Linked DNA regions of Homo sapiens: all the other regions are linked to region 1. The links come from fine-mapping of genetic effects on plasma protein levels. A gene starts in region 1. Each other region holds a variant in brackets. All regions are shown on one strand. Distances are from middle to middle.

The links. A credible set is the group of variants that fine-mapping cannot tell apart. PIP is the posterior inclusion probability: the model's chance that the variant is causal. Protein levels are from antibody-based Olink assays in UK Biobank. Linkage for the fine-mapping came from a reference panel and not from the study's own genotypes, which makes the PIPs less certain.
Region 2: its variant is the best candidate, but not a certain one, in a credible set for the plasma level of the ADAMTS16 protein (UK Biobank, PIP 0.51).
Region 3: its variant is the best candidate, but not a certain one, in a credible set for the plasma level of the ADAMTS16 protein (UK Biobank, PIP 0.62).

The regions. Positions count from the first base shown.
Region 1 is chr5:5,139,275-5,142,039 of GRCh38, reverse strand. It overlaps ADAMTS16 (ADAM metallopeptidase with thrombospondin type 1 motif 16), which reads right to left and starts at 1,710. Exons shown (of 23, transcript NM_139056.4): 1 at 1,501-1,710; 2 at 1,274-1,376. The coding sequence starts at 1,572. It overlaps ADAMTS16-DT (ADAMTS16 divergent transcript), which reads left to right and starts at 1,986. Exons shown (of 4, transcript NR_109915.1): 1 at 1,986-2,084. RefSeq lists an enhancer at 1,938-2,504.
Region 2 is chr5:5,194,569-5,197,333 of GRCh38, reverse strand. The region is part of intron 8 of ADAMTS16 (ADAM metallopeptidase with thrombospondin type 1 motif 16); the gene reads right to left. Among named protein-coding and RNA genes, the nearest start is that of ADAMTS16-AS1, 20 kb to the right of the region's middle. The variant T/C (reference allele first, on the strand shown) is at 1,657.
Region 3 is chr5:5,153,146-5,155,910 of GRCh38, reverse strand. All of the region lies in intron 3 of ADAMTS16 (ADAM metallopeptidase with thrombospondin type 1 motif 16), which reads right to left. The region is part of intron 1 of ADAMTS16-AS1 (ADAMTS16 antisense RNA 1); the gene reads left to right. Among named protein-coding and RNA genes, the nearest start is that of ADAMTS16, 14 kb to the right of the region's middle. The variant A/G (reference allele first, on the strand shown) is at 1,566.

The sequences.
Region 1 (2,765 bases):
AATTAGAATTAACCTTTAAAATTGTAAGAATTAACTTTTAGTATTGTAAGCAAAACCCTAAAAAGGACAAGGACAACCACAAGAGGATAGTCTGTAAATGGACAGATAATTAACTTTCTCTTGTAAATTCACTGTGACAATTTTTTTTAACATTTTATATCATTTGCACCTAGCGCCCCCTGGTGGTTCTCAAAAAGGTACTATGGTGAGCGTCAATCTGACACCGGTCACCTTATATACTATTTGTGTACTCATTTGGCAGGGAATAATTTCAAAAGTTAATGCATATATTAAGTGCTTGCCTTTATGTTATTTTATCAAATTGAAATAACTATACTGAGAAATTCTGAATTGTTAACTTTAATTTTCTAGATCTTCTGGAAATACATTGAGAGAATGAAACCTAGTTCTTCCTATAAAAGTCAATTAATATTAACATTTGATACGGCAATTTATTGTTGGTAACAATGCAAAATAATATTTATTAACTGTCATTGGATGGGTTCAGGTTAAAAAACCACCTAGCAACCAGTGCGACACACCTGCGTTCTCATTTACCTGATGCAGTATGAAGACACAGAGATCCCTTTCCATAAGACAGCAAATTTCCAAATGTCACTTGTAAGTGGCAGAAGTAAAAGCATGCATTGAAAAAGAATAAGACTTGCCCTCATGTCAAATTGTGGCCCAGGATATGAACGTTGCTGATGGTGTCACAATCAGCTGATTAGCCATTTCAGGCACTATTATGTTTGAAGTACGCCCTGATTGTTGGAGCATTAACTTTGGTATTGAGATGCTAAGCGCTTCTTTTATCTCCTTCACTGAGAATAAGCAACGATAGAGGAATATTTTAATCTATAAAGGAGGAGAAGGAGGAAAGGTTGGGGACGGGAAGGAGGATCCGAGGATGTAGAAGGGGACGGAAAAGAAAGTAATTTGCTCTTTATGACGGCTTTGATGCATACATTAATAGCTTTAGATTCTTCCTAAGCTCTTTAGAATAAAATAAAATGAACTTCCTCACCTTTTTCCTAATGTTATATCAATAACTCTGGCAAACCGTTTTGCCAGGGAATAAAATGTAAATATTGGTGGAAATCCACTCATCGGGGCTCGCTCATACAGTTAAAAAAAAAAAAAGTTCACAACAGCATCTTAAAAGTAGGGTTCCACAGAGTCGTGAACATTCACAGCACCTAATAAACCAGCGGCACGGAGATTACGAGCTGCTAAATGGCAAGGATTAGAAGCCCCCACCTCACGGACTTACCGCCCTTTTCCATCCAGCCCGGCCGCTCCGCGGGTGGAGGAGGACGCGGGACGCTCGGGCTCCCAGGCGCTGCCGCTGCGGGTCCCATGGCGCACGCAGGTGCCTGCGGAAAACAGCGGCGACATCGCGGTGAGACGGCGGGGTCCGCGGGAGAGGAGCCGCGGGGGACTCGCCTCCAGCTGTCCGGACCCGCGGTTTCCGCGCTGGTGGGAGCGCCCGGGACTCACCTGCTCGGCCACCTGCGCCAACAGCATCCACAGCGCCGCCAAGCCCCGCCATCCGCGCGCGCGGGGCTTCATCCAGGAGCGCTCCGAGGGGCTAGGGGCCACCGGAGGGTCCCCGGCCGGCAGCGTGCGAGCGGGCAGGGAGGACCCGACCCAGGCAGAGCGCGGGAGGATTCCCCACAGCGACTCCGCCGCCGCGCCGGGGTTATTACTGAAGCTCCGTGCGGCGCGGGGGGCGGAGTGGCAGCCGCGGCGGCGGGGGCGGCGGGAGCGGTGGGAGAGCGCGGGGCGGGCAGGGGAGAGAGGAGGGGAGGAGGTGAGGGCGGGGGGGTCAGAGGACCGAGGAGGGGAGAGTGCAGGGACAAAGAGCAGAGGGGAGGAGGCGAGGTCAGCGGGGCGCTGAGGCGGAGGCGAGCGGGGAGCAGAGGGAAGGCGGGAGACAGCGGGCAGCGCCAGAGGAGGAGGACGCGGGAAGATGGAGCTGCCCACGGCCTGCAGTCCGTGCCTCTCTGCCCGCGCGGGGACCACACAGTTGGAGAGGCTGCCGGGCACCGGCGCGGGCGATGCTCAGCATGGACCTCCGGCCGGTGCGCGCTCCTGCCCTGCCTTGGGGCTGGGGACTCGGCGGGACTCCAGCTACTGCAGTGGCTCCGCGGGCTCCCACCTCCGGGCCGCACCGGCGCCGCCAGAGGCCGGGACACCTGCAGCCCGCGGAGTGCGGTCTGGCCGCGCCTCTGTGCCCGGGCACAGCTGTGGGGACACTGGGTGCGGAAAACCGGGCGCCAGGACGTGGGAGAGCCGCGGACCTGCCTTTAAAGGCGCGTGCCTCGCTCTGGAGTTTGCGGAGCGATCGGAGACGGGGAGGCTGAGGAGGAAACTCTTCCCCCGCGCCATTTGCCCCGAGATGTGGCGGCGCTCCTGGCCCCGCGGTCACGGCCACCCTCAACTGGCCAGGCCGCGGAGGCCGGTGACTGGCTGCTGGGTGCAATCCCTAGGGAGGTCTCAGGGCTGCGGATGGGCCTGGGTCTCGGCCGCCACGGGGGTCGATCGGGCTACTGTGTGGACAGGGTGGCCAAGGAGGCAGCAGGTGTGCGGTCAACAGCCTGGCCAGAATTCTGCTGTAGCTGGATGGGGTGTGTGAGCGCGCGGGTGTACATGTGCCTGGGTGTGCGCGGGTGTACATCCACACCTGACTGCGTGTGCGCGAGTACACGCTGTGAGCCCATAGTGTGTCTGGAATTGGTGGGTTCTTGGTCTCACTGACTTCA
Region 2 (2,765 bases), 55 kb before region 1:
ATGTCATGCTTTTATCATCTTCTACAATATTTTTTGAGTGATTCAATTACTATTGGGAAGTATTTGTTTATTATTAATGATATACTGAGAATGCTGAATAACCAGCCAAGTGTTTGTAGAGGCTGTATCACTTATTTCAGGCTGTTCAGACAGTAGTGGTTAAGGACATGAGACATTCTTAAAGGAACCATGGGCCAATGTTATCTGGATGGCAAAGTCTACCTTTGGCATAATGATGGCGACCACAGGTAAGACTGAGCTGCCCAGAGCCCTGACGCAGGCTTCATGCAGGCATCTGGAGAAGCACAGCTCACCCTCCATGAAAGATAGAAGGCTGAGCTGAAGACAGCAGTTGCGGGGAACTGAGGGAAATGGGCAGAGAAGAAAATGGGAGACAGCATGGGCTGTGGAGGTGCAGGGACCTCAGTCAGGGTCTTGGCTCTGTCATTCACAAGCTGCTTGATATTGGGCAAATTACTTGACCCCCCCAGCCTCAGTTTCTTTATATATAAAATGGGATAGTAAAACCTTCCTCATGAACTGTACAGAATGCCTGGGACTGTGCACATCAGAAAGGAAAATTCAAAACTTCTATTCCCTTCCAGGATCCAAATGTGGTCTTGGTCAAATCATATAACACCTAAGTGCCATTCATGGTTGGTATGCATATGTGCATGCATGTGTATGGGAAGGTCTGGCCAAATATTAATGGATTTCAAATACTTGTTGGACACAGAAACAGACAAGAAATCCTAAGAGGAATGACAACAAATAAAATTGGTAAGAACTGATGCTCTGACCTACCACAGCTACCCAGAGAGCAGCCTGACAATCCCCAGTCCAGATGATGGTTAGAGGGGCTGGCTTTCTCCAATATTCTTCAAGTCTTTAAAAATCACCACATGCCTCCCTGATGCACTGGAAGAGGCCCAGACTGGTGACAAAGCACAGCCACAAATGGGGTGGAGGCACATGTCATCATCAAATACTGAAAGGGGCATCTCCAGTGACTGTGGTTGAGCTGAATGGTATTTTCAAGCTAACTACTAGTGATACCAATAGTGACACCAATGCTGCTTTTTTTTTTTTTTTTTTTGAGATGGAGGCTCTCTCTGTTGCCCAGGCTGGAGTGCGGTGGCGTGATCTCGGCTCACTGCAACCTCTACTTCCTGAGTTCAAGTTCTACTTCCTGAGGTTACTCTGCCTCAGCCTCCTGAGTAGCTGGGATTACAGGAACCTGCCACCACACTCGGCTAATTTTTGTATTTTTAGTAGAGATGGGGTTTCGCCATCTTGGCCAGGCTGGTCTGGAACTCCTGACCTCATGATCCACCCACCTTGGGCTCCCAAAATGCTGGGATTAACAGGAGTGAGCCACCACACACGGCCCAATGCTGCTTCTTTTAAGACCTCCCTGATTGTCCCTGTGTGGTCTCTTGCAATACCGACAGCTCTCATTACTTGATATCTTGCATGGCATATCTATTTATTCTTTTCTCTTAAACTTTGGAAGGGCATAGATCACTAGTCTTTTTGTAGACTCCTACACAATGCCTTGCTCTCAGAATGCAAATTGTGCCCAGTGACTGGGTCCATAAACTTGGGGAAATGCAAGAGACAGACTGATGAATAATGAATACTTCTGCACACAGTTAA[T/C]ATATTTGTTTTATAGCACCTCAATGGTCTCAAGTGATAATGCAACTTGGCTATTTAAGCCTATTTTATATAAGTGGAATGTACAGCTCAAATAATGCAACCTAAATTACACTTGCATATATGAGCTACGGAGCATATAGTGCTCTATTGTTTTTGCAGATCGGAAACCTAGGTAAGAGCTGTTAAGGGCACCCTCCCTGGTCACTATCAGACTGTGGTAGCACTGTGCTGATCTGGAATCTGAGTCCCAGAGCCCTACCCATCAAATGACATGACTTCCCTTAGCAAATGGGAATTTTTCAGATGGATTCATGCACAGATGACATATTCTCCCAAATGCGCAGTTCAGCCCTTGGTGCATCTGTGCCAATGCTTCAGCACCTGCCTTAGCAAACCACATGTCCTGTGTCAAGTGATTTAACATAACCAGGAAACTCTCCTTGTACCACCAGCTTAATACAAATCCTGATTCAATCCCATGTACTACAGGAGAACACATATCTCAGTTCTGGTTCCAGTCTCTCCTCCTCTCTTTCCAACACAAATCCAAACACCTGTTCTTAGTAATTTCTATTTTTAGGTCACATTCCCTAGCATAAACTACATGATATTTTGAGATTTTTTTAAAAAGTGGAACTTAGGAGGACAGATTGGATGGACACTAACTGAAATCTTTATTTGAGTTAAAGGTTAGAAACCTATGAGTTGCAGGCATGGAGAAGTACTCCTCCATCCCAAATAATGTCCTCCGAATGTAAACAGAACTGAAAAAGTAAAATTTACCTTCGAAGCAGTATGTTTTACACGTTTTTTAATAGTAAAAGTCATAATAAATTCAGAATTGCTTTTTAATTCTTGACGTACAGAACTCAAAAATTTGACTCTGCTTGGAGCTCATTGATAAAAGCAGACCGTTGATGCTCTGATGTTTGCTCCATGCATCAAACTTATCATTCCTTCTTCCAAAAATAAAACTCACTAAATACATGAACTGAACAAATGTGTTTGTCTTCAGTTTAGTTCAACTAAGATACACGGAGTTTTATCATTGAGTCTTACACATCACAGCCTTTCTCATTTGAAGTGGTGGTCACAGCTAACAATTCATT
Region 3 (2,765 bases), 14 kb before region 1:
TCCCAGTGGGCTTCCTGTCTAACCCCTGTGGACTTTCTGTTGGCTCCCTCACTTCCTGTCTGTCCCCTGTGGACTTCTTGTCAGCTCCTGTGGACTTTCTGTCTGTTCCCTCACTTCCTGTTTTTCCCAGGGGTGGACTTCCTGTTTGTCCCCAGTGGGCTTCCTGCCTCCTGTTCCTGTCATTCTCACTTCACCCTTGCTGTGGCAGATCATTCCAGTTGCAGCCGCTGATTCTAGTTTGTAGCTTACTTAAAGAACCAGCTACACTGTTCTCCCTCAGAGTCCTAGCACCAGCTAGCTCCTACTACTAAGGGATTTGAGGCCCAGCTCCAAACGTCTGAATTTTGAAAATCCCAAACTCTCCCCTTAGTTTCTTCAGCCCCAGGGGCAGTATATTCTTGTAGTTGTTGTCTAGGGTGCTTTGATATTCTCTGTTTAATTTTTCAGTACTCAAATGCCTACATAATGCATTGTATTAATTCTCTCTCTTCAAATAATTTGTGTGGTTTCTGTCTCCTGACTAGACTGTGATTGATACAGTTAATAATAAATGCCAAACAGAAAAATAAAATAGGGATAGGAAGTGGGAAACAGGGATAGGAATGAAACAGGGACTGGGCGAGTTTAGATGGGTGGGCCAAGGAAGCCCTTAACAGACTTCCTATCTGTTCCTTGTGGACTTCCTGTCTGTCCCAGTGGGCTTCCTGTCTAGACCCAGTGGACTTCCTTCTTAAAAGGTAACATTTAAGGAGGAAAAAAAGGTCATATCCATGTTAAGCAGATACAATCAGGCTGCTCTCGTTAAACCTCAGGCAAAGCAAGATCCTGCCTTCAAGAGCTTGGTTTCATTTGGACTCTTTTACTCTCTTTGTACTGGACTTTTGCTTGAGCAAGCACTCTCTTTAAAAGTAGATAGCAAGCACTCTCTTTAAAAGTAGATTTCAGACATCCTGTCATTCAGACAGTCCCAGGCCTGTATCATCCCCGAGAGTTAGTGGCCACAGGGATCATCTTCTGTTACACCCAGGGAATCAAGTTTCAGGTCTGAGCATTACTAAGAAGTCATCTCTTAACTCCAAACTATCCTTTTAAACTCTGCTTTGTGAGGCTGAGGATGGAACTCTACAAATCTCACTTCTGCTATGCCACCTGATCCCTATTTCATGATGATGAAGTAATATCATCAAGTGATTCTTGGTGAAAACATCGCTGGACAGAGAATCTGAAGACACGCACCCTAGACCTGTCTGAATTCCACCCGACTTTGTGATATTGCCCAAGTGACTCCACTCCACTTGGATCTCAGTTTCATCACTTCAAAAATGAGAGAAGTGGAACAAAACCATAGATTTTATAGCTAAATTTCTCTAGTCATCTAATTTTTGTTTACAACTAACAGTAAATTAATAGAAAAATCTGTTATCACTTCAAACTTGAAAGATTACCTTATAAAATATTATTTGATCTAATGAAATATATTCATTTCTGTTAATTTCCAAATTGCACTATTATATTTATTCTTATGTAATTAGCAGAAAAGTAAGAAATTATCTACACTTTCAATT[A/G]GTTCTTCACAACCACCTTAAATTTCCTAGTCACCACCAGCTTTGGCCGTTCTTTATCCAAAAACCTAATAGCTGTCTCACATGCCTCCCAAGACTGACATTTTCATCTGCTTATGCCATCAGCAGTCTTCTCAGATAGTGACACCTTTCTTTCAAAAATCATAGTATCTCTTCTGATCATACCCCCATGTGGGTTCTTCCTCTCTATTCCTATTTTATTATACTGGCTCAAGAACATTTTTTAAAGTCAGTTGAAAATCTGGCAGCATTTCAGACAGTTTCCTAGGATTTATTGAGTGTTTTAGAAAAATCTCTCAATGACTAGAATTTCCAGGGAATCCCTGGAGTTTGTGGGTAGAAATAAAACCCAGTACAATTCAAACCAGGGCCCTGAATAAGTGTCAAATCAAGTGAGAGTATAGACAGAACTGAGAATTACAACATTTACAAGTATTCCAACATTTTTGAAAACAATAATTAGACTTTAGGAAAAATGATACCTATCCTGTGCATTAATGCCTTGACAAACATCATGTTTTATGCAAGACGAATTAAATTTCATGCAGATTTTATGCCAATGGCAGTCGACAGATTATATATATTTTTTTCTAATCCAAGTACAGAACTTTCAGAAAATCCTAAGAAAAATCTATTCCCATCATATGCAACAGAAAACATTTTTAAACAACCCTCACTTAAAAATATTGACTAATGGAGTTTCTAAAAAATAGTTTTGTTAAAAACCCTAGTGATTGAACGATTTATTAATAAACTATACACTTCAAAAGAAAATTTACAGTGTTTGACATTAGTCATAGCAAGAAATCAGATGAAGTGGATTATAAAACTAATTTTACCTTTATTAATACCCAAAAATAGAGGTTGAGAAGATATAGGATTTCTGTTTGTAAATTGGAAATACAATCACTCATTACAAGAACAAAATGAATTTAGGTTAATGTTTAACAAGAACTTTGGGATACAAAGATGAATGATAAACGACTCTTGAAGAGTTCATAGTCTGGTATTAAAAAACCTGTAAATAAATAATTATGGAATAAAGTACACATATGTGCTTTAATATTTACACACTGCAAATTTAACATTACAAACTGCAAATGTGGTCACTAAGCTCAAACAGCATTAGATGCTGAGGAAGATGGCACTGAAGTGGAAACCAATGAGAAAGTCATTACCCCT